7 linked regions of the Homo sapiens genome follow. The protein of the gene in region 1 purifies or fractionates together with the protein of each later gene. This does not show direct contact. Each region holds a gene or a part of one and is shown in the gene's direction. Other genes may lie near its edges. The genes, in order: ASAP2, KATNIP, ADD3, RAB11FIP3, SEC24A, DHX40 and VILL.

Region 1 (3,982 bases):
AGTGTCAGGAGACGGCTTTGTCTGACATATTGAATTTCCAGTGTCTCTCACACTTCCTCCTTTTCAGATGCACAAAAGGTTTTTGTAAAGTTTCTCTTGGTTTTACCGCTGGCAGCTACAGAAACCATGCCACAAGTCTGGTGTAGAGTTATAGGGTGTGATTTTATTTGACTGGTATCTTCAGAGCTTCTGGATTTTTCAGTATAACCGAGAATTTCCTTAAGAGCTGTAAATAAAAATCGGTACCAGTTCGAACCCTTTACTGGCCCGGTTTTGTGTGAGGTTGGCTGGCTGCTGTAGCACGTTCTCCCCCTCCTCCTCCTCCTGCACCCCCTCGGTTCCCTCCTCTGCCTGCGGGAATACCACTTCAGGGCGTTCAGCAGCCTTCCCAGGGTGGGTCCTGGCCTAGTACCCTAAAACTATAACCGAGAATACCTATCATTGGGCAGCCTAGGAAACGCGACTGGGACTTTTAGTAGGGGCCCCTCACCGCTCTGAAGCACTCACACTTGAGTCAGGGAACATGGGTTTGAATCCCCACCCGGCCGTTTATCTTGTGCTCTTGGGCACACTGTGTCCCCTATATAAAATAAGCACCCATCTCTTCATCTGTCTCCTAGGCCTGCGACGATGCAATGACTGCACGCAAAGCGCACATTCACGGTCAGGTCACTTCTGGCGTCCGGCTGTGGTCCCCGCAGGGTGCCCGCCGGCGGAGCGCATCCTCCGGCAGGGGGCGAGCTCCGCACCCCGCTTTCCTCATGGGCCGGCGCGGCCCGCCGTTCAAGTGGGGAGCCCAGAGGTGCTCCGCGCCGTGGGCGGGGGGCGGTTGGCGCGCACAAGGCCGGACTCCGGCGGGGCGCACCTCCACACGCACCCTCGCGGGCAGCGGGTCGGAGTCGGGGCCTCGGGCCGGCTGGGGGCGGGGCATGGGCGCGGCGCGCGGGGCCCGGAACGCCGAGACAATGCGGCGCGCGGCGGCCAGGAACGGCTCGGCGGGCCGGGGCGCGCGCCGCCTTCCTTCCTGCGGGATCCGCTTCCCGGCGGCGCGGCAGCGGCGAGCGCGCCGATTGGCGGCCCGGTCCTCCCGCCGCCCCGCCCCACGCCCGGCCGGCCGCCGCCCCCGGCCCGGACCCGCCCCTCTCCGCGGGAGGCGTCGGGGCCCGCGGCTGGGTGGCGGGTAGTTCCCGCCGGCTGTGCGCGCCCGCCTCGGGGCTCGCTCTGAGAGGACGCGGCGGCAGCGGACTCGGAGCCCTCGGCGCGCAGGCGGGCGGACCGGCCGAGCTGCGCGGGGCTGCGCGCCGCCCCTGCTCCGCCGCCAGGCCCCGCGCGGCTCCCGCGCCCGGCGCTCCCCTTTGTCCGCGGGCCGGAGCGGCGGCGGCAGCGGCGGTGTCCGAGCGGCGGTCGGAGCCTGCTGCGGCAGTTGAGGCGGCGGCGCCCCTGCGGCTGTGCGCCAGCGCCCTCGCGCCGAGGCGATGCCGGACCAGATCTCCGTGTCGGAATTCGTGGCCGAGACCCATGAGGACTACAAGGCGCCCACGGCCTCCAGCTTCACCACCCGCACGGCGCAGTGCCGGAACACTGTGGCGGCCATCGAGGAGGTGAGGCGGCCTGCGCGGCGGCTCCGGCCGCAGGTATCCCGCGCCCCAGCCCCGCCCGCCGCTCCCGCATCCGCATCCCGAGAAAACTTTCTTTGCTCCGAAGCCGGACGCGGCCGGGCCAACCCTGCCCGAGACAGAAGCCCTTTGTTCCCGCCTAGGTGGCTCGGAGGAGATGGGTGATGGCCACCTTGGGCCTCTTTAAGACCTCCCCTCTCTCGGCCTCGTGGCCCTCGCGGGGTTCCGCGGCCTGGTCTTTTCCCCGCAGCGCGGCCAACTTTGTCCAGAGTCGGGGTCCGCGGCGAGCGGGGGATCCCGCTGCCCGCCGCCGCCCGCCGCCGCCCGGGGTCTTTGGTACCCGGTGCGGACCTTATCAACTTGTTCTTGAAGTGGACCGGCGGGGGCAGCTCCGCGCTCCGAGCTCCCCGCCGCAGCCCCCGAGCGCCGCAGGGCCCCCACCCTCGGGTCCGCGGGTCCGGGGCATCCCGGGCTGCCCGGGAAGGCGTGCCCGCCTCAGCCAGGGCGGCCTGGCTGCGCTCCACCCGTGCCCGGAGAAGGAACTGCGGGCAAGGTGTGTGAGAGTCGGCGCTTCTGGGTCCAAGAAGCCTCCAGGAGCCGCTCCCCGGTTACCTGGGTCTCACCTGCTTGAACCCGGAATGCCGCCCTTCCCCCTCAACCTGGAAAAGGCCTGGTTTTAGTAAAGTGCTCTCAAGGTGCAAAGTCATCACGCCTAGCTGCTAAGCAGTACGCTCTCCAGGTCCTGGGGAGAGGAACACGTAGGAACGAAGAAGCTTGGTTGAAAATTAAAGCCGTGGGGAAAGGGGCAGAGTCTGTGAGTCCAGGGGCCACCGTTGGCTGTGGTTTGAGGCACATCCTCACCTGCAGTCCTCCTTTTCCTTACCCATCAAACGGGATTAGTAATGCATCCTTTCCAGGATCAGAGACTGTGTGAAGTGCTTAGCACTCTGCTCGGCTCAGAATAGGTTTACAAGTCACACGTGTGGCAATAGTGAATCTGTGATTAAATGTCTCTGGGCCAGGATGTCAGGTTACAGTTTTAAAATTGGGTATTGCAGGTGTTTTAGCAGAAGACGCCTGGGCTAGCAGGAGTGTGTGTGTGGGTGGGGGGGTGGGTGTCACCAAAGAGCTTTAAATGAAGCAATGGCGTTATTTTTTTTTTCTGGTTTTTTTTTTTTTTTCCCATTTGAACAAAGCATCTGCTATTAGGAATTGCTTGAAAAAAAATCCAGAATGTTTTCCCTTAATGGAAAAATTTTTTCTTTGTAGCTGTAAACAGTCAATAAAAGGGAGTCAAAAGTAACATTCAGCATTCTGAATCCTGTTAATATAACTTGGGTAGCCTTCCTTCTCTCCATTTAATTTGGCGGAAGAGAGCTGCATGTAAACCTTTCCTATGAATTCGGTGATTCCCCAGATCACTTAATTCTACTTTTAGCAGCAAGGCTTACAGATGATGCCTTCAAATGAGGCAGATGGGGATGGGTGAATGAAATTTTTTCCTAAGTGCCAGTTAAAAAGCACGGTGTTTTGAGAATACACCATTAATAATGTTTATGGAATGATTGCAACCAAAAAGGTAGCTGAATATTTCTTAAGGGAAGGAAGCATTGTGCATGATGTCTTTCTTTAGAAAGCTTGATTATGTTTAAAGTTCTGTTGCTTTTCCCCACTGCAGTTTGTCAGTTAAATATTATTAACACTGGCAGATGTTGGAAAGCCAAGCAAACAAGAATTGCTATTAAAATTGGCATACCTTTCTCTGATTAATTTTAGTTTACAGTGTATAATTCCAAAGCTCTTTTTGTATGCTGTGCAGGAGATTACCCTAGAGCTCAGTTACTGAGCAGATTACAAAGAGACTGGATTTGGTCATTTCATTAAATTGCAAGCTTGCTTCATGCTGCCGTCTAAGCCCAAGAATTGGTTCAAGTCTCAAAATGGAAAAATTAAAATCATTTCAGGTTTATTTCACTTTAAGCAAATCTACATACATGCTATGATGATGGTATGTGTGAGCTTGGTTTTATAACTAAATTTGAAAGTTGTTCACTTTCTGAGGTAAATCAATGTGGATTTCTTTAAATAATGCTCTTTCCCAGGTGTCTAATGTTCGTGTCTATTACCAAAACTTGTTCTATGTATGGTTTAATAACAATTGATGTGTACAGTATTTTGGTTTTAAACAAAAATCTTCTCATACTGAGACGAAACATGAGAGGGTATCATGACATAAAGTTACTCATTTAACAAATAAATAAAATTTGCAAGCTCTTGGTCTTATGTTTAAACAAATGAATCACGGAACTAGCAAACTAATTTTATATTTATTTATTTATTTGTTACGGAGTTTTGCTCTTGTTGCC
Region 2 (3,500 bases), on another chromosome or scaffold:
GAATTTATCCCATCATCGGCATGGTTCTGCACCCCGTCGTGTGAAGAAATCATCCGGAGAACTTGTTCTGAGTCCAGAAGTTACCTACAGGCTGCCTTGAGGCAGTGGTCCTCACACGGCATCCTCCTGGCTCCCTTCCAACTGCAGCTGCCGTGAACATGGGACAGTCCCCGCATGTGGACAGTGCCCTGCCTCAGGTGCTCGTGGGGTGCTCTGCCGTGGGAGCACACTCAGCTCGTGCATGTGTTGGGGCATCAGTGCCCTGAGGGCAGCCTTCAACAAGCAGTGGATAAATGTCCCAGTCTTGGAGAGACATTTGCGACATGCATTTAAGCAGAAGACTCCCATGATCTGATTTCAGTTAAAAAAAAAAAAACTCACTGCTGCATAGAAAATGAAGTGTGAGTGCAGGGATTTGGAGGAGACAACGCAGAGTGGAAGCAGAGAGACCAATTAGGAGGCGGCAGTGGTGTCTCTGGTAGAGACCCTGGTGGCCTGGGCAAGGAAGGCAGCAGCACATTCCAGGTAAAGAGGTCAGACCCAGGAAGTGTTCTGGAGAGAGAGGCGAGGGACAGCTGGCGGATTGGATGGGCAAGTGAGAAAGAGAGGGATCAAGGGGGCCACGAGGTTTTTGGCCACTGCTTCAATGATGGAGCCATTTTTAAGATAGGTGAAGACTAGGGTTGGGGAAAGTGAGATCTTGGAGTGCCGCAGAGGGCCCCCGTGGGAAGGAGCACCAGTTGGCCACAGCAGTGACCAGCTCAAAAAAACTGGGTTTTTCCTTTTTCCTGCCCTATCTTGCTTTCCCCATTTCCTCTTGGAATCACCTGCCAAATACTCGACTTGCACCCGAGTCCTTGTCTCAGCCTCTGCTTTTACGGTCTCCCAATTATGATGCCCACGGAGGCCAGGAAAGCTGTTTTATAAGCACTCCAGGCTTTTCGACGCAGATGGTCTCAGGAACTGGACTTTAAAGAACACTGCTATAGGCTGTGAAAAAACATGAAGGATTTCACACAGGGGAATGACTGGACAGATTTGCTCTGGTAGGAAATGAACTCTGGTGGCAATGTGAAGTCCAAGTTAAAGTAGCAAGAGACAGGAAGCAGGGAGACCCATTAGTAGGCTATTACGAATGTCCCGACAGGAGGTAATGATGACGAAGGCAGCGATTGAGGCCGTCTCTTTGTGAAAGTCCTTTGATTTATAGAGTATGTAGCGGTTCCCACAGAAATGAGACCAAGCCTAGTTTCACACCCCCAGCACTGTGGTTTTCAAAAGCTTGCATTTCTAGCATTTCACATTTTCTTTTCTTTTTTTGGTATCTTCGACTTCCAAAATTTCATACATCAGTCTGATGCTATGCATCTTCACTTTGTTAAATCTTATGGTTTCAGGATCTTGACATTGGTGCCAAGAACGTGAAGCTTTACGTCAACAGAAACCTCATCTTCAATGGCAAGTTAGACAAAGGAGATAGGGAGGCCCCAGCTGACCACAGCATCCTGGTTGACCAGAAGAACGAGAAGAGCGAGCAACTAGAGGAGGCCATGAACGCTCACTCGGAAGAAAGCAAAGGCACCCATGAGATGGCTGGTGCCAGCGGGGACAAGGAGCTTGGTCTCGGTTGCTCACCGCCAGCTGAAACATTAGCGGATGCAAAGCTTTCTTCACAAGGAAATGTGTCTGGCAAAAGAAAGAATTCTACTAATTGCAGGAAAGACAGTTTGTCCCAGTTAGAGGAATATTTGAGACTGTCGGCAGTCCCCACTTCGATGGGTGACATGCCCAGTGCTCCTGCCACTTCCCCACCTGTGAAGTGCCCTCCTGTCCATGAGGAGCCCTCTCTCATCCAACAACTGGAAAACCTCATGGGCAGAAAAATCTGTGAGCCACCCGGGAAAACCCCATCCTGGTTACAACCTTCTCCCACCGGCAAGGACAGGAAGCAGGGAGGCAGGAAGCCAAAACCCCTCTGGCTTAGTCCCGAGAAGCCCCTGGCCTGGAAGGGCAGGCTCCCATCAGACGATGTCATCGGTGAGGGTCCTGGAGAGACCGAGGCCAGGGATAAAGGCCTACGGCATGAGCCAGGGTGGGGGACCAGCCGGAGTGTCAACACCAAGGAGAGACCCCAGAGGGCAACCACCAAAGTCCACAGTGATGACTCAGACATCTTTAACCAGCCCCCCAACAGAGAGCGCCCTGCTAGTGGGAGGAGGGGCTCAAGGAAGGATGCTGGCAGCAGTAGTCATGGGGACGACCAGCCAGCCAGCAGAGGTAAGCTCCAAAGAGCAGCCCGACTTGGGCATCATCATCCCAGCCCCTCTAATTGGCATGAAGCCAGTTAGCTCCTGGACCTCAGTTTCCTTATCTGCACAACAAGATGGTTGTTCTCAACTAAGGGTCACAAAATCACTGTCTCAGGGGCCAAAGAGATGCATACATGAGTGAAATGGGCAAGACACATTTTGCATGGTAAATTCATAGATGTATTTGTCATTGCCACCAAGGTATGTCCCTTTGCCCATTTTTCTTGCAACACATGGCTTTTCCAAGCCATTTTCCAAAAGACTTTGTTCTCCTGCCTTTCATAGAGACATCGGTCTCTAGTCACTTCACTTTATCCTTAACTGTACTGTTAGAAAAATAGCTGGGTACAGTGGCCAGGCCTGTAATCCCAGCACTTTGGGAGGCTTAGGTAGGAGGATCGCTTGAGCCAAGGAGGTCGAGGCTACGGTGAGCCATGATTGCGCCACTGCACTCCAGCCTGGGTGACACAGCGAGACTCTGTCTCAAAGAAAAAAAAGAAAAAATAATAACACAAGTGTGATGATGCATAGCAATTGACACTTGCCTGAGTGTTGGAAGTGGCACAGGGAATAGTGAGGACTTTGGCAATTTGGAGACCATAAGCCCACCCACAGGGCGGCTGCCACTCCACTCAGGTTTCTAATAAGCATTTAGGAGTGCAAGGCCAGGCCGGGCGCAATGGCTCACACCTGTAATCCCAGCACTTTGGGAGGCCGAGGCGGGCAGATAACCTGAGGCCAGGAGTTCGAGACCAGCCTGGCCAACATGGTAAAACCCTGACTCTACTAAAAATACAAAAATTAGCCAGGCATGTGGTGCGTTCCTGTAATCCCAGCTACTTGGGAGGCTGAGGCAGGAGGATCACTTGAACCTAGGAGGTGGAGGCTACAGTGATCCGAAATTGTGCCACTGCACTCCAGCCTGGGCAAGAGAGTGAGACTCCGTCTCAAAAAAAAATAATGAATGCAAGGCCACTGTACCAGACCTCCTCTTTACTTTTTTCAAGAGAAACCAGAAATGTTTCTTATTTTTTGACTTTGGCAACTGATTGAGATTATTTTTAAACTACTGTATATGTCAAAAAAAAAAAAAAAAGGCACATCTGCTGGCAGGACTCACCCTGAGAGCTTTGTGAACTTTGCAGTAGATGATTAGATGGTCTTCAAGGGCATTCCTGATTATGAAAGGAG
Region 3 (3,500 bases), on another chromosome or scaffold:
CATGGTGTGGTTGCACTTGGAGAAACATTAGAGGAGGCTTTTCATTATATTTTTAATGTGCAACTAGCCTGTGAGATTCAGGTAGGAAACATTATTCCCCTTTTTTAATTGCTTTGTTATTTGCTCGTTTAGTTGGATTTTGTGTACTTATTTGCAAATACATATTAGTTAGTGGCTTTTTGTCTTTTAAGAGAAGTTCTGCTCTACTTATGTAGGCAGGGTTTTCAACTCAGTTATCTCTTGAATTGAAAATAGGAGTAAAGGAAATTAAAATTTTCTCACACACAATCTAAGGGCCTCATAAACATCATTTTCCCTACAATCCTGCTTTTTAAGTTAGTACAATTGCATATTTCTGTTTTCACCCTGTAGTGGTGGTACTAATTAAGGAAGAAAAACAGCTGCAAATCAAGAATCAAATGTGTTGTGGTCACTTTTGTAAAAAGTTTGACTAGGTCCAGAAGTTATATGAAATTGCAGTTTTCAACAATTCCACAGCCTCATTATGATGAGAGGTTGGATATTTATTAATCATTTTTTTCATCAGAGATGTTGAATGTATTTAAAGGCCCTAATTTTCTTTTTCTTTTTCTTTTTTTTTTAATTATACTTTAAGTTTTAGGGTACATGTGCACATTGTGCAGGTTAGTTACATATGTATACATGTGCCATGCTGGTGCGCTGCACCCACCAACTCGTCATCTAGCATTAGGTATATCTCCCAATGCTATCCCTCCCCCCTCCCCCCACCCCACCACAGTCCCCAGAGTGTGATATTCCCCTTCCTGTGTCCATGTGATCTCATTGTTCAATTCCCACCTATGAGTGAGAATATGCGGTGTTTGGTTTTTTGTTCTTGTGATAGTTTACTGAGAATGATGATTTCCAATTTCATCCATGTCCCTACAAAGGACATGAACTCATCATTTTTTATGGCTGCATAGTATTCTATGGTGTATATGTGCCACATTTTCTTAATCCAGTCTATCATTGTTGGACATTTGGTTGGTTCCAAGTCTTTGCTATTGTGAATAATGCCGCAATAAACATACGTGTGCATGTGTCTTTATAGCAGCATGATTTATAGTCCTTTGGGTATATACCCAGTAATGGAATGGCTGGGTCAAATGGTATTTCTAGTTCAAGATCCCTGAGGAATCGCCACACTGACTTCCACAATGGTTGAACTAGAGAGCCCGCATCGCCAAGTCAATCCTAAGCCAAAAGAACAAAGCTGGAGGCATCACACTACCTGACTTCAAACTATACTACAAGGCTACAGTAACCAAAACAGCATGGTACTGGTATCAAAACAGAGATATAGATAAATGGAACAGAACGGAGCCCTCAGAAATAACGCCACATACCTACGACTAGCTGATCTTTGACAAACCTGAGAAAAACAAGCAATGGGGAAAGGATTCCCTATTTAATAAATGGTGCTGGGAAAACTGGCTAGCCATATGTAGAAAGCTGAAACTGGATCCCTTCCTTACACCTTATACAAAAATCAATTCAAGATGGATTAAAGATTTAAACGTTAGACCTAAAACCATAAAAACCTTAGAAGAAAACCTAGGCATTACCATTCAGGACATAGGCATGGGCAAGGACTTCATGTCCAAAACACCAAAAGCAATGGCAACAAAAGACAAAATTGACAAATGGGATCTAATTAAACTAAAGGCCCTAATTTTCTCTTTAAATCAAGCAGATTTGGCCAGGCACGGTAGCTCATGCCTGTAATCCCAGCACTTTGGGAGGCTGAGCTGGGTAGATCACCTGAGGTCAGGAGTTCGAGACCAGCCTGACCAACATGGAGAAACCCCGTCTGTACTAAAAATACAAAATTAACAGGGCGTGGTGTCATGTGCCTGTAATCCCAGCTACTTGGGAGGCTGAGGCGGGAGAATCGCTTGAACCCGGGAGGCGAAGTTTGCAGTGAGCCGATATCGTGCCATTGCACTCCAGCCTGGGCAACAAGAGTGAAACTCAGTCCTCAATAAATAAATAAATAAATAAAGCAAATTCTCATGAAGCAAATGGTAATAATCTTAATTTATTGGAAGGGCCACAAGAAAGGGGGAAAAGAACAACTAAAAAAAAACTTTTTCTACCAACATTAACTTGTCCTAACAATCAACTTATTTTTGCTTTAATGGTTCCTCCTCTTCTCAAATGGGGCTATGAAAAGCTTAATTAAATTAAGATAATGAGCTGATGGCTTCTGCCTAAATATCTTTAAATTCAAAGTACAGTGTTTTTGTATTTCCTTAAAATTATAGCTTTTAGCAAAAGTATTAACTGGATAACCCTGGGAAAACTTCAAGAAAAGAAATTTAAAATTTGGCAGCAGAATTCCGTGGCTTAAAATATGTTAAGAGGTATGGCTCTAATGTGTTTTCCATCAGGGAGGATCAGAGTCTTGGAAGGTTTCTTTTTCAGATAGGTGGAAAAGATACTTCAGCTGTCTGCTGGCACAAGAGTGTCATCTTGTCTTTGTTGTTAGTAGCCTGAGCAAGTATTATAGATATTTGCCAAATTGAAATTGTGCCTTTTTGAAAGTAAAATACTCATTACAGTCTTTATAGTTTTGTGTCTCTGTATATTTTACCATTGATTACAGGTGCAGGCCCTAGCAGGTGCAGGTGGAGTAGACAATCTCCATGTACTGGACTTTCAGAAGTATAAAGCTTTCACTTACACTGTAGCAGCGTCTGGTGGAGGAGGTGTGAATATGGGTTCCCATCAAAAATGGAAGGTTGGCGAAATTGAGTTTGAAGGGCTTATGAGGACTCTGGACAACTTGGTAGGTTGCAAAATTGAAGTAAAACTTGGATTTAATGTCTTCAGATTCAAGAGCAGATGCTTCCATTTTTGTAGAACATGCTCCATACTCTTCCAGAAGCTGAGTTTGGCCCTAGGAAAGCATTTCATTGTTATTTAACCACACCTTTGAGAATTAAACAGAACTTACAAATGTCGTGTTTTTTTTTTAAGATTACAATATATTGTTATTAACTGTAGTCACCATAGTACAATATATCTCTTGAACTTTTTCCTCCTAACTGAAATTTTGTATCCTTTGATCAACATCTCCCCACCCCCACCTCCTTGTAACCACTATTCTACTCTACTTTTATGAGTTCAACTTTTTTTTTTTTCTTGGAGGCAGGATCTTGCTTGGAGTGCCGTGACACAATCAGGGCTCACTTGCAGTCTCAACCTGCTGGGCTCAAACCATTCTTCCACCTCAGCCTCCTGTGTATCTGGGACATAACGTGTGTGCCACCGTGCCTGGCTAATTTATTTTTTTTTTTTTACTTTTTGTAGAGATAGGGTTTCTCCATGTTGCCCAGGCTGGTCTTGAATTCCTGGGCTCAAGCAGTCCTCCCACCTCAGCCTCCCAAAGTGCTGGGATTACTGGCGTGAGCTGCCATGCCCAACAAGTTCAACTTTTTAAGACTCTGTATATAAGTGAGATCATGGGGTATTTGTCT
Region 4 (3,863 bases), on another chromosome or scaffold:
GTTGCTGTTGGGAGACTCAGAGATTGGAGGGACAGACGGCCGGGGCAAGCTGCATGCACAGGTAGGTGCGTGACCCGCATCCAGGGCAGGTGTCCACCCCTGCAGGAGAAGCAGAAGCTGTTGGATGAGATAGAGTCGCTGACGCTGCGGCTCAGTGAAGAGCAGGAGAACAAGAGGAGAATGGGGGACAGGCTGAGTCACGAGAGGCACCAGTTCCAGAGGGACAAGGAGGCCACCCAGGAGGTGAGCACCCACCCTGCCCCACGCCCAGTCCTGCGCCCAGCCTGCCCCACGGGGAGCCTTTGTTTCCTGAGACGCTAGCTCTTGGCTGTGCTGCTTTGGGCATAGCCGCTGGTGTGTGTCGTCCTCCCGAGAGACGGCCAGATCAACCCTGAGGTTCTACAGCCAAGTGATGGCTGACGGTGGCCCCTGGGAGCCCAGGCCCCCCGGCTCACTGCACGGTTGCCCTGCAGCTGATCGAGGACCTCCGAAAGCAGCTGGAGCACCTGCAGCTCCTCAAGCTGGAGGCCGAGCAGCGGCGGGGCCGCAGCAGCAGCATGGGCCTGCAGGAGTACCACAGCCGCGCCCGGGAGAGCGAGCTGGAGCAGGAGGTCCGCAGGCTGAAGCAGGTGGGCAGGCCTGGGCCTCCCTCCCTCACACTCCTGCAGAAGCTTCCACAAGACTGGTTGGGAAGGGGGGGCCGTGGAGGGTCAGCATCTGAGCTGGAGGCCTTTTTCCCCGGGCAGTCCTTGTCCCTGCTCAGCCACCAGCAGGGGCCACAGCCCAGTAGTGATGTTGCTGTGCCTTCAGGACAACCGCAACCTGAAGGAGCAGAACGAGGAGCTGAACGGGCAGATCATTACCCTCAGCATCCAGGGCGCCAAGAGCCTCTTCTCCACAGCCTTCTCTGAGTCCCTGGCTGCAGAGATCAGCTCCGTCTCCCGAGATGAGGTAACACATCCCGTGTCTGCACGGTGTGGCCTGGGGTCCACAGTCTGCACTGTCTGTGCGCTGTGGTTTATGCGCTGTGGCCTGTGGCCCATGCGCCTCAGCTCTGACCACCTGCTTGCCCTACAGCTCATGGAGGCGATTCAGAAGCAGGAGGAGATCAACTTCCGCCTGCAGGACTACATCGACAGGATCATCGTGGCCATCATGGAGACCAACCCGTCCATCCTGGAGGTCAAGTAGAGGCAGGAAGGTCCAGCCTGAGCTGGATTCGGGACTCCAACACCCTGGAGTGGTTCCGTCAGACCATGAGGAGCCAAGACCAGCAGGTCCCACAGCCGACAGTGCCCAGAGCATGCAGGGAACCCTCGTGCAGCTGAGCTGGGGCCGCCAAAGACCGGGGCTGCCAAAGGGGCAGAGGGTGGTGGAGAGGAGAGGGAGAAAGGGAAGTCCCAGGGCCCGGGGTCCACAGAGGATGAGGGTTGTGGCAGGGCCGTCCATCAGCGCTGACCTTCCGGGGGCCCAGAGCTTCCCAGCCCTGAGTCAAGCTGGCCATGAACGCGTACACTTCAGTTCAGCAGGATGGGCTGGAGAGCCTCTCTGTGCAGCGGTGTGGGGTGAGCCCTGCTGTGGCCTCCTTGTGGTGGTCCCTCTTCCCACGTGCAGCCCTGTTGGGAAGAAAGGAAGAAAACAGGTCCCTCCAGGGGTGCTGCTGCCTAAGCCACCCACATAAGTACGCTGGTGCCGTGTCACCCATGTTGAGCCGCTCCTGATGGCTGACGGGCTCCCAGACCCTCACCTCGGACATGGTGGTGGGGGAAGGACGGGTGGGCAAGGCTGGTGCGTTCCCCAGCTCTCCCTACGCTGCTCGGGCCATTGCCCAGCCAGATGTGGTCACCTCAGTCCAGCTCTGGGGCCTCCAGGCCATGTGGCTGTTCCCACGGCCCAGTCCTCGCTGCAGTAACCCCTGGGGGCTCTGACCACCTATGGGGGCCGGGCAGGAGCCTCTGGGGCCTCCACTCCGACATCAGGACCTGAGATGACCGCTGTGTGGCGCTCTCTCCCTGGGCAGGGTGGATGCCACAGGCCCCTCTGGCTCCCAGGTGCTGCTTCTCCACAGGTGCGGCCTGGCCCGGCCTCCTAAAGGCCACACCCTCCCCACGCACTTCCCAGGCCAGAATCCAAACATCGGGAACCCTGTTTTCTTCTGGGTGTGTCTCACTTAGAAATCGTGGTTCTTCCCCGAGGGTGCATGTTGCAGGAGGGAGAGGGCAGGGAAGACTCACAGCAGAGCAGGAGGGGGCCTGTGCTTCTCGGGGTCTGCACCCCAGGCACAGCGGTGTCACCCCGCAGGACCGCGGGCCTGCCCCAACCCCCAGCATTCCCGGGTGGGCCCAGACCCCATCACCAAGACTGGCCACCCGCTGCGTGTGTGTGCGCGCGCGTGTACGTGTGGCCCCACATCCGCCGCCTTCCACGCTAGGATGTAAGAGGTCGCCTCCTATTGTACATTTGGGGAAAGCCTTGGGTGTAAATCAGTGTAAACTTGGAGGAGAGATTTTTCTATCATGTAGAGTAGGTATTTTTTATAGATTGAAGGTTGATCAATTTTTTAATACTTTCAAGAGAAAACTGTGTATACACATGAAATATATATATATATATATATATATATATGTATAATATATAAAGACTGGCACCCTGCCTCTCTGTGCCCAGGCCCAGCCCTGGTGACATGGCACCACTCAGCAGTGCTGTCACTGTAAGCATGGACTCCCAGGAGACAGTGTGGGAAACGCTCCTGCTTTAATTCCCCGAGAAACGGCTCTTCCTGCCTGGATGCAGGAGGGCAGGGGCCACCACAGATTAAAGCTGTTACTGCACACGCAGAGGCCGGCTTCTTCCTCCAGGGGGGCCACAGGGTGGGGTGGGAGTCTTCTGGGCCTGGCCCAGCTTCCCTCAAGGCGTCCGAGGCCATCAGTTGTCTGAGCTCAGAACCCAGCAGACCTGCCTGGCTCTGCAGCTTGGTCAGACTAAGACCCTTCCAAGGCCGTAGGATTGCACCTCCAGGCCCAGTGGAGCCTGGCAGCTTTCCAGCCAGGTTCTGGATCCTGACGAGCTGCTGAGACAGCATCAAGGTGGGGCAGGTGGGGCGGGGCAAATTGGGCAGCACAGGGCTGTGTGGGCATCAGGGCTCTGGGTCACACGCCTCTGGGGACGTACGTCCCATGTCGGGAGAGCCGTCAAAACGTCCCCGGGATTAAGAGAAGAGTGGGGGGCAGGGCGCAGAGGCTCACGCCATAATCTCAGCACTTTGGGAGGCCAAGGCAGGAGGATCGCTTGAACCCGGGAGTTCAAGACCAGCCTGGGCAACATAGCAAGGCCCCATCTCTAAAAAATAAAAAATTAACCAGGCATTGTGGTGCGCACCTATAGTCCCAGTTCCTTGGGAGGCTGAGGTGGGAGAATTGCTTGAGTCCAGGAGACGGAGGTTACAGTGAGCTGTGATCACACCGCTGCACTCCAGCCTGGGCGACAGCGAGACCCCATTTCAGAAAGAATTTAAAAGGGCAGTGATGTGCAGGGTGGTGGGAGGACATCCCCCAGAAGAGGGGGCAGACACAGTACCAGCACCACAGGCACGGGAAGGTGAGGAGGCAGGTCCCGACGGAAGTGGGCTCCCGAGGTCATGGGCAGCCAGGGAGTCTGAGAGAGCTCAGTGCCACTGCAGCCACAAAGAATGGCCTGCGGGGAGTGGTCCCATCTGATCAAGAGTCCCCCAAAAACACAAGCCTTGAAAACTGGACCACCTGGTCCAGCATCCAGGAAGCGGACTGTGCATCTGCGGCTCTCGCTCTCCCGCCCCCCGCGCGAGATGCCCGCCTGCCTGTCACTCTCAGATGCAGATGGAGATG
Region 5 (3,500 bases), on another chromosome or scaffold:
GCTGGGACTACAGGTGCCCGCCACCACGCCCGGCTAATTTTTTGTATTTTTAGTAGAGACGGGGTTTCACCGTGTTAGCCAGGATGGTCTCGATCTCCTGACCTCGTGATCCGCCCGCCTTGACCTCCCAAAGTGCTGTGATTACAGGTGTGAGCCAATATTTCTTTGAAAAGCATTTAAAATTCTGTATTGGGATCTGCAGGTTGATACTTCTCAGCAGACAGCCTCAAGTTTATGAAATAGTGTAGGCTTCCAAGTGAAATAGTAATATCAATAGTTACCTTTTTAACCTTATGTATGTTTATATGGCATATACTCCATCAGGCTTGTAAATTGTTAATGGCTGAAACTTTATTTTTCCAAGCCTTTGATCAGACATTGGCCCTGGTGAATGCATTTTGGCCTTGTAAAGATTAAAGCTGCTTCTAGAAACTTAAGTTTCTTTGTGGAAATCTTCTGACCTGCAATTAGTAGAGCTAAAATCCTTCATGTTACTTTTGTTCTAATTCATTTGATACCATGAGTGAGCATCAATCACTTGAAATGAATGAATATGGTGGCACACATCAATCACTTGAATGAATGAATGTGTGGTCCCAGCTACTCGGGGGGCTGAGGTGGGAGAATTGCTTGAGCTCTGGCAATTGAGGCTGCAGTGAGCTATGATTGTGCCACTGCGCTCCGGCCTAGGTGACAGAGTGAGACTTGGTCTAAAAAAAAAATTTAAGTGTTAAAAAAAATGTTATCTATATTATTTTCCAGGCTCTATCAAACTTTGATATCATTATCTGTTTTTCTGTTTTGCTTTTTATTTTTTAGAGATAGGCTGTCTCTCTGTTTCCCAAGCTGGAGTGCAGTGGTGCAATCCTAGTGTCATCAAACTGCTGGGCTCAAGCTATCCTCCCGCCTCACCTCCCTGAGTAGGCGTGCCACAGTGCCTGGCTAATCTTTTGTTCTTTATTTTTTTGTATAGACAGGGTCTTACCCTGTCGCCCAGGGTAGAGTAGGGTAACACGATCATAGCTCACTTAACTGCAACATAGCTTGCTGTAACTGCTGACCTCAAGCCATCCTGCTGCCTGGATTTCCTAAAGTTCTGGGATTACAGGTGTGAGCCACCTAGCCAGGCCTGCATTATCTTGTTTAATCTTCGTAACAGTCTCTTACAGATCTAAAGTATAAGACTTGAATAATTTGCCCAAAGCCACAGTAAAATAGTTTGGGAAAACATTTATTTAAAAACTATTTAAGGGCCAGGCGTGGTGGCTCACGCCTATAATCCTAGCACTTTGGGAGTCCAAGGCAGGAGGATCCACTTGAGGCCAGGAGGCCAGGAGTTCACTAGCCTGAGCAAAATAGCAAGACCCCATCTCTATTTTTTTAAATAATTTTATTTAAAAATAAATAAATACTAAGAGTAGGTGTAGCTTCTCTTAAAAAGGTACATTATCAATAATCTGAAATTTCTTTAGCTATAATAGAAACCCTCAGAGCACCTTGTCTCCACTACAGATTTGGTGAGAGAGACATAAATAAGTGCTGAGGCTGGGCATGGTGGCTCACGCCTGTAAGCCCAGCACTTTGGGAGGCTGAGTCGGGTGGATCACCTGAGGGCAGGAGTTCGAGACCAGCCTGGCCTACATGGTGAAAACCTCGTGTCTACTAAAAATACAAAAATTAGCCAAGTATGGTGGCACGTGCCTGTAATCCCAGCTACTCAGGAGGCTGAGGCAGGAGAAGCGCTTGAAGCTGGGAGGCGGAGGTTGCAGTGAGCTGAGATTGCACCACTACCTTCAGTCTGGGCGACAGAGCAAGACTCCATCTCAAAAAAAAAAAGTGCTGAAACTTATGAAAGAAGGGGAAATAAAAACATATAAACTAATAAAATGAACCTAAAAAGTAACCTTCTTTTTTCTCATTTGAACCTTCAAAGAACCTTCAAATTCCTCATTTTTTTTCTTTTTTCCAACTCATAACTGAGAGTTGGTACCTGATAGTCTGGTATCAAAGCTGTGAGTATTTAGGTTATACTAAGTTTTTAGTTCATATATTAAATTTTCCTGAATTTTTTTAATAGGTCACCTTTAAGCATCATTATACTCATTTAGGGGCTGAGAGGGCAGACTCTGAAACTCTAGCTATCAGTGTCGTAAATAAGAATTCTTCAACTTGAAAAAATGTTCATTTTATGAAATATATGATTATCTGTTCAAAAATAGTCTTCTAAAAGCTGTGAAAATCTCTGTAAGTTTACTTTTATTCGTTAAACATTAGGTTGTAGGTTACATCTTTGTGGCCAGATGTATTTTACATTCTTGTTCATGCTGAGTTGGCCATGTACCTTGCCCCTTTGTTCCTTTGACTTGTCTATACTGCCATAGATATGTGTGACCACTTCTTTGATAAGGGAGTTACATGGCAATAATCTTTGTCTTCACTTTTGTCAACAAGGCACTGATAGTCTTGTTAGCAGTTGTAAGATTCAGTAATAGGCAATTTTTCTTTTTCTTTTTTTTTTTTTTTTTTTTTTTTGAGACGGAGCCTTACTCTGTCGCCCAGGCTAGAGTGCAGTGGCGCAATCTCGGCTCACTGCAACCTCCGCCTCCCAGGTTCAAGCAGTTCTTCTGCCTCAGCCTCCCTAGTAGCTGGGATTACAGGCATGCGCCACCACGCCCAGCTAATTTTTTGTATTTTTAGTAGAAACGGGGTTTCACCATATAGGCCAGGCTGGTCCCAAACTCCTGACCTTGTGATCCACCTGTCTCAGCCTCCCAAAGTGCTGGGATTACAGGCGTGAGCCACTGCACCCAGCCTAATAGGCAATTTTTCAACTTGATACTGGAGTATTTAACAGTATTGGTGAAACATTTTGAAAAATTTCAGGCTGAGCGTGGTGGCTCACGACTGTAATTCCAGCACTTTGAGAGGCCGAGGCGGGTGGATTACGAGGTCAGGAGTTTGAGATCAGCCTCCAGCCTGGCCAATATGGTGAAACCCCATCTCTACTAAAAATACAAAAATTAGCCGGGCGTGGTGGCGCGCACTTGTGGACCCAGCTGCTGCCGGAGGCTGAGGCAGGAGAATCGCTTGAACCCAGGAGGCGGAGGTTGCAGTGAGCCGAGATTGCGCCATTGCACTCCAGCCTGGGGGACAAGAGTGAGACTTCGTCTCAGAAAAAAAAAAAAAAAGTGTTCCTTCTGCCTCGGTCTCCCAAAGTCCTGGTATTATAGACATGAACCACTGCTCCTGGCCCCCTATTTTTATTTTTATTTATTTATTTATTTATTTTGAGACAGAGTCTCGCTCTTGTTGCCCAGGCTGGAGTGCAGTGACGAGATCTCAGCTCATTGCAACCTCTGCCTCGCAGGTTCAAGTGATTCTCCTGCCTCAGCTTCCCAAGTAGCTGGGATTACAGGTGCCCACCACCACACCTGGCTAATTTTTTGTATTTTTAGTAGAGATGGGGTTTCACCATGTTGGCAGGCTTGTCTTGAACTCCT
Region 6 (3,500 bases), on another chromosome or scaffold:
CACTGCACCTGTCCTCATTCCCTTTCATAATCCATTGTCTCACCTACTAGGCCCTCCTGCCCCACCAACCCAGGTAACCACTAATCTGCTTTCTGTCATGATACAGTAAGTCCTCACTTAATGTCATCAGTAGGTTCTTGGAAACTGTGAGTTTAAGCAAAATGATATACAGCAGGCCCTAGAAAAATATTGTTTTATTCACCATTGTTTTAACACTGATGAGAGAAAAAAAAAAATCTTAAAAATTTTGCTTAACTTTGCAGTTTTTAAGAACTTATCATTGACATTGAAGACTTACTGTATATAAGTTTGCATTTCCTAGCATTTTACATAAATGGAATCAAACAGTATATGCTCTTTTTTTTTTGGTCTGGCATCTTTTACTCCTCATGATTATTAGTTTTTCAATTTATATATCTTATTTTGGTAAAATAATTAATATAAAATTTACCTCTACTGGGCATTGATGATTAACCCCTGTAATCCCAATGCTTTGGGAGGACGAAGTGGGAGGACCACTTGAGGCCAGGAGTTCAAGACCAGCCTGAGAAACAGTGAGACCCTGTCTCTACAAAAAAATTAAAATAATTAGCTTGTTGTGTTGGCACACACCTGTAGTGCTAGCTACTCAGGAGGCTGAGGCAGAAGGATTACTTGAGTCCAGGAGTTTGAGGTTGCAGTGAGGTATGATGCCACTACACTCTAGCCTGGGCAACAGAGCAGCAGCACCCTGTCTCAAAAAAATTTTTTTTTTTTTTTTTTTTTACTGTTTTTATGCGTACAGGTCACTGCACACTTAAAACATTTACAATGTTGTGCAGCCCTTACCACTTCTCCATCTCCAGAACTTTTTTTTATCATCCCATACTATAATAAAACTCCATAACCATTCAACAATAACTCCCCATTCCCGACAGTGCATGGTAGCTCACGCCTATAATCCTAGCACTTTGGGAAGCCGTAGTGTGGGGATCACTTGAGCCCAGCAAGTTTGAGACCAGCCTGGGCAACACAGTGAGACCTTGTCTCTACTAAAAAAAAAAAAAAAAAATTAGCCAGGCGTTGTGGCACACACCTGTAGTGTCAGTTACTCAGCAGGGTGAGGTAGAGGATTGCTTGAGCCTAGGAGATCCAGGCTACAGTGAGCTGTGATCACACAACTTCACTGCAGCCTGGGTGACAGAGTAAGACCCTGACTCAAAACAAAAACAAAAAAACCTACCCATTATCTTCTTTCTCCAGCCTCTGGAAACCACTGTTATAATTTCTCTGTTTCGTTATGAGTGTTTTCTGTTTGCCTTATCTTAAAGTTCATTAATCTTTTCTCCTGCAGTGTCTAGTCTAATCTGCCATTAATCCCATCTAGTATATTTGTCATCTCAGGTGTTGTATTTTCATCTCTAGATGTTGGATTTCAGTCTTTAAATTTTTACATTTTATTTTTCAGGTCTCTACTTTTTGAACATATGTAATCCAGCTATACAGAAAATTATAATAAAATATAATTAGATCTGTGTCAGTTCTAGGTTGATTTTGATAGATGTCCTCATTATGGATTGTGTTTTTTTGCTTCTTTACATCATACCTGATAATTTTTCAGCGGATGCCAAACATTGTGAATTTCACCTTGTTGGGTGCTGGATATTTTTGTGTTCTAGTTACTTGGAAATGGTCTTTGGTCTTTCTTGTTGGGTCTTGCTTGCATGATTTGTTAGGTGGGATCAGAGCAGTGCTCAGTGCAGGGCTAGTTATTCCCCTCTACTGAGGCAAGGCCCATCTGAGTACTCTTCCTAACATCACATGAATTACTGTAGTGTAGTATTCTCATGTGGCTTATAGGAACAGGCGCCATTACTAGCCCTGTGAAAACACCATGCCCTTACTTATCCTTTTAAGAGGTTCTTTTCTTGGGCTGGTAGTTTCCTCACATTCATGTGCTAATCACTACTCAGCTCAACACTTGAGGAGGACCTTCTGCATCTCTCTGGAGTTGTGTCTTTGTGCACTTCTCTTCTCTCCTGAACTCTTGTCCTGTGAATTCTAGCCACCTTGGTCTTCCTGGACTCCCAGCTTTCTCTCCCTAACCCAGGGAGTTCTCTGAGTTCCATTTGGGCTTTACTTCCCTGTACCTTGGTCTGCAGTCTTTATCAAGGCTGAAGTTGGGGCAGTTGTTGGGCGTACTGCGTTTATTTCCTGTCTCTGTCCTTTATTGCCTGATATTACAGTGTTTTGGAAATCATTATTTCATGTATTTTTTCCATTTTTTTGGTTTCAGGTGGAAGGGTAAATCTGGTCTCTCTTAATCTATGTTGGCCAGAAACAGAGGTCTTTAGAAATGTGGATTTTTCAAAATAAAAGATTATTTCAAATTGTACTATGAGATTTACCACTCTCTACATATTCTTTTTATAGCAAAGTGATTTCCCAAAAGAGACCTTTGAAGGCCCTAAACATGAAGTACTACGAAGATGTCTTTGTGCGGGCTATTTCAAAAATGTAGCTCGAAGGTAAGCAATAAAGACTTGAGAGATGGATCAAGATATAATACTGTATTTGACTATAATATTGGACTATTTAATATTAAACATTGAAGATTTGATTTAAGCTCTGTGATGATTATGACATGAATTACAGTGACGAGGGAGAGCTACAGTGACGAGGGAGAGCTGCAGTGGCTCAGAATGTGGTATTAGAGCTCAAGTAGGGTAGGAGGGGTATGTTTGTAGGGTGGCTGTCCAGCATGGGTTATCTTCACTTAAGGCAAGTAACAAGAGTTTTCTTTCAGAGAGGTGGCCCTGTGTATAGTGTGAAAGCCAAGTAGGTTGAGCATAGCATCCCTGAGGAAGGGTAGCTTGGCATGGAGTGCTAGGGCTTGAGCAAGGTGGGGAGGGGTTATTTGGTTTGGGGCATCAGTCAGAGTGTAGTGAGGAAGGCATCTTTATAGAGAAAGGGGTAACAGTGATGGTGATGGAGATTCATTAAATACAGAGGAATTGAACACATAACTCTGTGAGTGATAATGGTGAAGGGAGTTAGAAATAGCGAAAGTGAGAAAATAGGAATGATCTCTGTGCTGTTGGATTGAAATTTCAGTGTATCATGATGAAGTTATGGGTTTCATTATAGATGGATGCATGGATGGACACTGGAATAAAAATAGATGTTAGTGTGTGTATATAGAATGTATTTGTATGTATGTAAATATTTATATGTATATATGCCCTAGCTCTGAGATAATAACAATGAATAGACATAGTGCCCAGATCTTGACTTGGGACATCCATCTGCCACTTAAAGGAGTCAGGGGTCTTTGGAGAAATGGGGCTGGGAAAATGCAAGATGAGCCCAGAATATCTTATTTTGCCAGCAAGTAAAGAAGTGATTAACAAAGGTTGAGGCCACGTCAGAAGAACATAGGAGCCAGCATGAAGAGGCCCCAAGTAATCAAATATGAGACACTTTAAGCATCAAAATAAGTAGTGATAGTAGCGGATTATTAT
Region 7 (3,450 bases), on another chromosome or scaffold:
CTGTCAGGGTCAGTGTGGGAAAGGACACCCAGGCATTGTCTCCTGCCATGCAGAGGTGAGGTAAGGGAGGCGTCATCATCCCCAATATACAGGTGGGAAAGGCCCGAAGCTTAGAACAATGTCACTGCCAACACAGGGCCTACCTGGGATTTGACCAGAGTCCGCCTGGCTCCAGGCTCTGCCACCCACAGGAAGAAGAAACTACACTGACAGATGTGAGACAGTGTTTCCCCTTCAGTCTTTGAACAGGCTTTGTGTTTTCTAAATGACACTGGATAAAAGGGAATTCATTCAAGAGCTCCAAGGCTTCCCTTTCCGCCCGGCTTCTGTTGCCCTGGCCTGAGCAGCGAGCAGCTGGGAGGGGACTGAACTGCCCCTAACCAGGGTTGTGGCTGGTGGGGTTGGGACTAGGGCTGGGCATGTGGCTGGGATTGGGCCCATCTCCCAAGTGTGGTGGGTTTCAGGGGTCCGTGGGGAAAGGGTCACCTGCAGATCCTTGTACAAAGCCCAGCACAAGGCCCAGAATGGGCCTGGAGCTGAGGGTGGGCCCCTGGCCTGCGTGGATGAGGAAGGCCTCAGAGGCTGGGGAGAGCTTTCCGGTTGGGTACAGGATGGGTGGGCTGGTTCAGGAAGAGCAGCCACCTGTGCCCATTGGTCCCTTATTCCCCAGGTGTGGTGCATCCAGGACTTACACAGGCAGCCCGTGGACCCCAAGCGTCATGGACAGCTGTGTGCAGGCAACTGCTACCTTGTGCTCTACACATACCAGAGGCTGGGCCGTGTCCAGTACATCCTGTACCTATGGCAGGTGTGCCAGCCTGAGGGAGGCAGCACTCACCTTAAAGCCCAAGGGCTGGGCTCTGGGAGTGAAATGTGAGAGCTGGGCCAGGCCCTCACTCACTGCCCCCACCTGCAGGGCCACCAGGCCACTGCGGATGAGATTGAGGCCCTGAACAGCAACGCTGAGGAACTAGATGTCATGTATGGTGGCGTCCTAGTACAGGAGCATGTGACCATGGGCAGCGAGCCCCCCCACTTCCTCGCCATCTTCCAGGGCCAGCTGGTGATCTTCCAGGTAGGTCTCACCTTGCCACTCTGGCCACAGCCTGCCCAGTTCTGCATGGGCCATGGCCCCCGCACACACTTCTAAGCACCTTCTCTTTGGGCCTGGGGCCTGCTTATCATCCCCTAGTTTCCCAGAGCTTGTCCAAGGCCCAGGAGCTCCAAGGTTGGCCCCCTGCCTGAGTTTCCCTCCCCAGTCCCAGAGCCAGATGAGGAATTTGAGTTGAAAGGGAGCCAGGGGCTTGCCTGGGGCTGCACACTAGCAAACCTGGTCCCCACTTTCCACCTCCAAGGCCTGAGCACCCATGCCCCAACCACTCAGAGATGGGGGGAAAGGTCCATTTAAAAAGGGTCTGTCCCTGTCCCAGACTGATGGGATTCCTGCACTCCACACTTAGAGGGTCCTGTACTCCTCATGTGAAATCACCAGTGAGGGCCTTGATGGCTTCAAGCAAGGGTCCCTGAGCTCTGAGGCAATATGTCCCACACTGGGACAGGAAGGCGCCCCTGGGAGCCCTTGCCCAGCCTGAGGCCTTGCTCTCCTATAGGAGAGAGCTGGGCACCATGGAAAGGGGCAGTCAGCATCCACCACAAGGCTTTTCCAAGTGCAAGGCACTGACAGCCACAACACCAGGACCATGGAGGTGCCAGCCCGTGCCTCATCCCTCAACTCCAGTGACATCTTCTTGCTGGTCACAGCCAGCGTCTGCTACCTCTGGTTTGGGAAGGTACCCACAGCACTGACCACTTGATTCATGCCCAGATGTAGTGGTGCCAGGCTGGGGGTGGGTCCTCTCCACAGGGCATGCAGACTTTGAGTCCAGCCTCAGATAGGCCGATGGGGGGAATGGGGAGGGGAAGAAGCCACAGGGTCCCCTCTAGAACTTGGGGAAAGTTACAAAGTGACAGGTGGACCTGAGAGTCCGCAGGTCAGAGCCAGGCCCAGGCCGCCTCCCCTCCTTACTGCCTGGAGCACAGGGCATGTCCCTTCCCAGGTCTCTTGGGAAAAGGGGAGGCCTATGCCAGTTTGCTGGAGTTTTCTCTAATATTCAGCATAAACTATGACTGACCCTCTAAGCCTGGGGGCCTCCTATCCCATGCTCTGGACCCTGCGAGGGTCCCAGACCCTGCGATCCAGATCAACTGGGGACACAGGCCTGTAGGGTGAGGAAGATGCCTTGTTCACTGGTGTCCTGCTGTCAGCTTAGGCCTCCTGTGACTTGGGCCCAGCCCCACCCCATACACCCTGTGAACGGGACGTGGGGCCGGAGGTGAAGGCCCCTCCTCATGCAGGGCCTGAGCCATCTCTTTGCCTGCTAGGGCTGTAATGGTGATCAGCGTGAGATGGCACGGGTGGTGGTCACTGTCATTTCCAGGAAGAATGAGGAAACGGTGCTGGAGGGTCAGGAGCCTCCCCACTTCTGGGAGGCCCTGGGAGGCCGGGCCCCCTACCCCAGCAACAAGAGGTAACAGGGTTGGGAGGAGAGTGTTCTTACCCAGAGGAGGAATTGAGGCCCAGAGAGGAGGGTGGGTGACTGGGATTCACACAGAGAGCTGGCAAGACGAGACTAGAACCAAGGACTCTCAGTTTCCCACTCACAGAGGCTCCCACAAGTACAGCCCACGCTTCGCTCCCAGGCCTGGGTAACTTGCGTCTCTCAGATGCTGGGGAGAGTGGGGGCAGTGGCGACCTCTGCTGGCAGCATCCCCTCCCTGCATTGTCCTGGTCCTGGGCCAGGGGACAAAGCACCCTTCCCCACCCTACAGTCCTCAGGGATCACGGTGCCCAGTGTGTGTGTATACAGTGTCATATGATGTGTGGGTATACAGTGTGTGTGGATGTGCAAGAACAGGTGTATTCAGGGTGTTGTGTGTGGTGTGTAAGTGGACAGGGTGTGTGTAGGAGGTAGGAGTGAGGCCTCAAGGGGAGGAGGGAGCTGAGTCCTGGTCGCTCTTGGTCTGCCTGTGGGGCTTGGTTTATGTGCTGCACTCCCCACAATTCTCCTGAGCTCAGTACTCCCGTCTCCTTCTCCCAGCCTGGCTTGCCTCCTTCCACTTTGGGCCGGAGACCTACTCTCTGCCAGGGGTGGGCTGAGGAGCTCCTCCCATCCCAGGGAGGGCGAGACTCCAGCTCAGGCCCTCCCCTACCCCTGCAGCCCTCTCCTAGGGAAATTCATGGGGCACCTTGCGTCACAGCTGGGTGGGGCGAGAGCTTTCTCCATGAGCAGAGAGGGACCCTGTACCCAGAGCAGAGCGGAGTGCTCGGGGAGAAACCACGGGGCTCAGAGGAGGGCCCAGGGCTCCCACTCCTGAGAAGTGGCTTCCCAGGCCCTGGGGTGGGGCACTTGTGCCATGGGCTGGGGTGCCCCTCTGGGTGGCTCACAGCCT

Evidence for each region.
Region 2: the proteins of ASAP2 (region 1) and KATNIP purify together in Homo sapiens (tandem affinity purification; one large-scale study listed by IntAct). This does not show direct contact.
Region 3: the proteins of ASAP2 (region 1) and ADD3 fractionate together in Homo sapiens (co-fractionation; one large-scale study listed by BioGRID). This does not show direct contact.
Region 4: the proteins of ASAP2 (region 1) and RAB11FIP3 purify together in Homo sapiens (affinity purification with western blotting, with the first as the bait; one study listed by BioGRID). This does not show direct contact.
Region 5: the proteins of ASAP2 (region 1) and SEC24A fractionate together in Homo sapiens (co-fractionation; one large-scale study listed by BioGRID). This does not show direct contact.
Region 6: the proteins of ASAP2 (region 1) and DHX40 fractionate together in Homo sapiens (co-fractionation; one large-scale study listed by BioGRID). This does not show direct contact.
Region 7: the proteins of ASAP2 (region 1) and VILL purify together in Homo sapiens (co-immunoprecipitation; one large-scale study listed by IntAct). This does not show direct contact.

Annotation. Positions count from the first base shown.
Region 1 is NC_000002.12:9,205,630-9,209,611, forward strand, and holds the start of ASAP2 (arf-GAP with SH3 domain, ANK repeat and PH domain-containing protein 2), read left to right. Parts: upstream 1-1,182; 5' UTR 1,183-1,475; coding exon 1,476-1,601; coding exon of another isoform or gene 1,602-1,634; intron 1,635-3,982. UniProt on the Homo sapiens protein: Activates the small GTPases ARF1, ARF5 and ARF6. Regulates the formation of post-Golgi vesicles and modulates constitutive secretion. Modulates phagocytosis mediated by Fc gamma receptor and ARF6. Modulates PXN recruitment to focal contacts and cell migration.
Region 2 is NC_000016.10:27,738,644-27,742,143, forward strand, and holds part of KATNIP (katanin-interacting protein), read left to right. Parts: intron 1-1,397; coding exon 1,398-2,277; intron 2,278-3,500. UniProt on the Homo sapiens protein: May influence the stability of microtubules (MT), possibly through interaction with the MT-severing katanin complex.
Region 3 is NC_000010.11:110,119,484-110,122,983, forward strand, and holds part of ADD3 (gamma-adducin), read left to right. Parts: coding exon 1-81; intron 82-2,626; coding exon 2,627-2,809; intron 2,810-3,500. UniProt on the Homo sapiens protein: Membrane-cytoskeleton-associated protein that promotes the assembly of the spectrin-actin network. Plays a role in actin filament capping. Binds to calmodulin.
Region 4 is NC_000016.10:519,649-523,511, forward strand, and holds the end of RAB11FIP3 (rab11 family-interacting protein 3), read left to right. Parts: intron 1-105; coding exon 106-243; intron 244-473; coding exon 474-629; intron 630-810; coding exon 811-951; intron 952-1,077; coding exon 1,078-1,191; 3' UTR 1,192-3,363; downstream 3,364-3,863. UniProt on the Homo sapiens protein: Downstream effector molecule for Rab11 GTPase which is involved in endocytic trafficking, cytokinesis and intracellular ciliogenesis by participating in membrane delivery. Recruited by Rab11 to endosomes where it links Rab11 to dynein motor complex.
Region 5 is NC_000005.10:134,662,285-134,665,784, forward strand, and holds part of SEC24A (protein transport protein Sec24A), read left to right. Parts: intron 1-3,500. UniProt on the Homo sapiens protein: Component of the coat protein complex II (COPII) which promotes the formation of transport vesicles from the endoplasmic reticulum (ER).
Region 6 is NC_000017.11:59,600,110-59,603,609, forward strand, and holds part of DHX40 (probable ATP-dependent RNA helicase DHX40), read left to right. Parts: intron 1-2,412; coding exon 2,413-2,507; intron 2,508-3,500. UniProt on the Homo sapiens protein: Probable ATP-dependent RNA helicase.
Region 7 is NC_000003.12:38,000,786-38,004,235, forward strand, and holds part of VILL (villin-like protein), read left to right. Parts: intron 1-670; coding exon 671-808; intron 809-916; coding exon 917-1,075; intron 1,076-1,610; coding exon 1,611-1,790; intron 1,791-2,382; coding exon 2,383-2,528; intron 2,529-3,450. UniProt on the Homo sapiens protein: Possible tumor suppressor.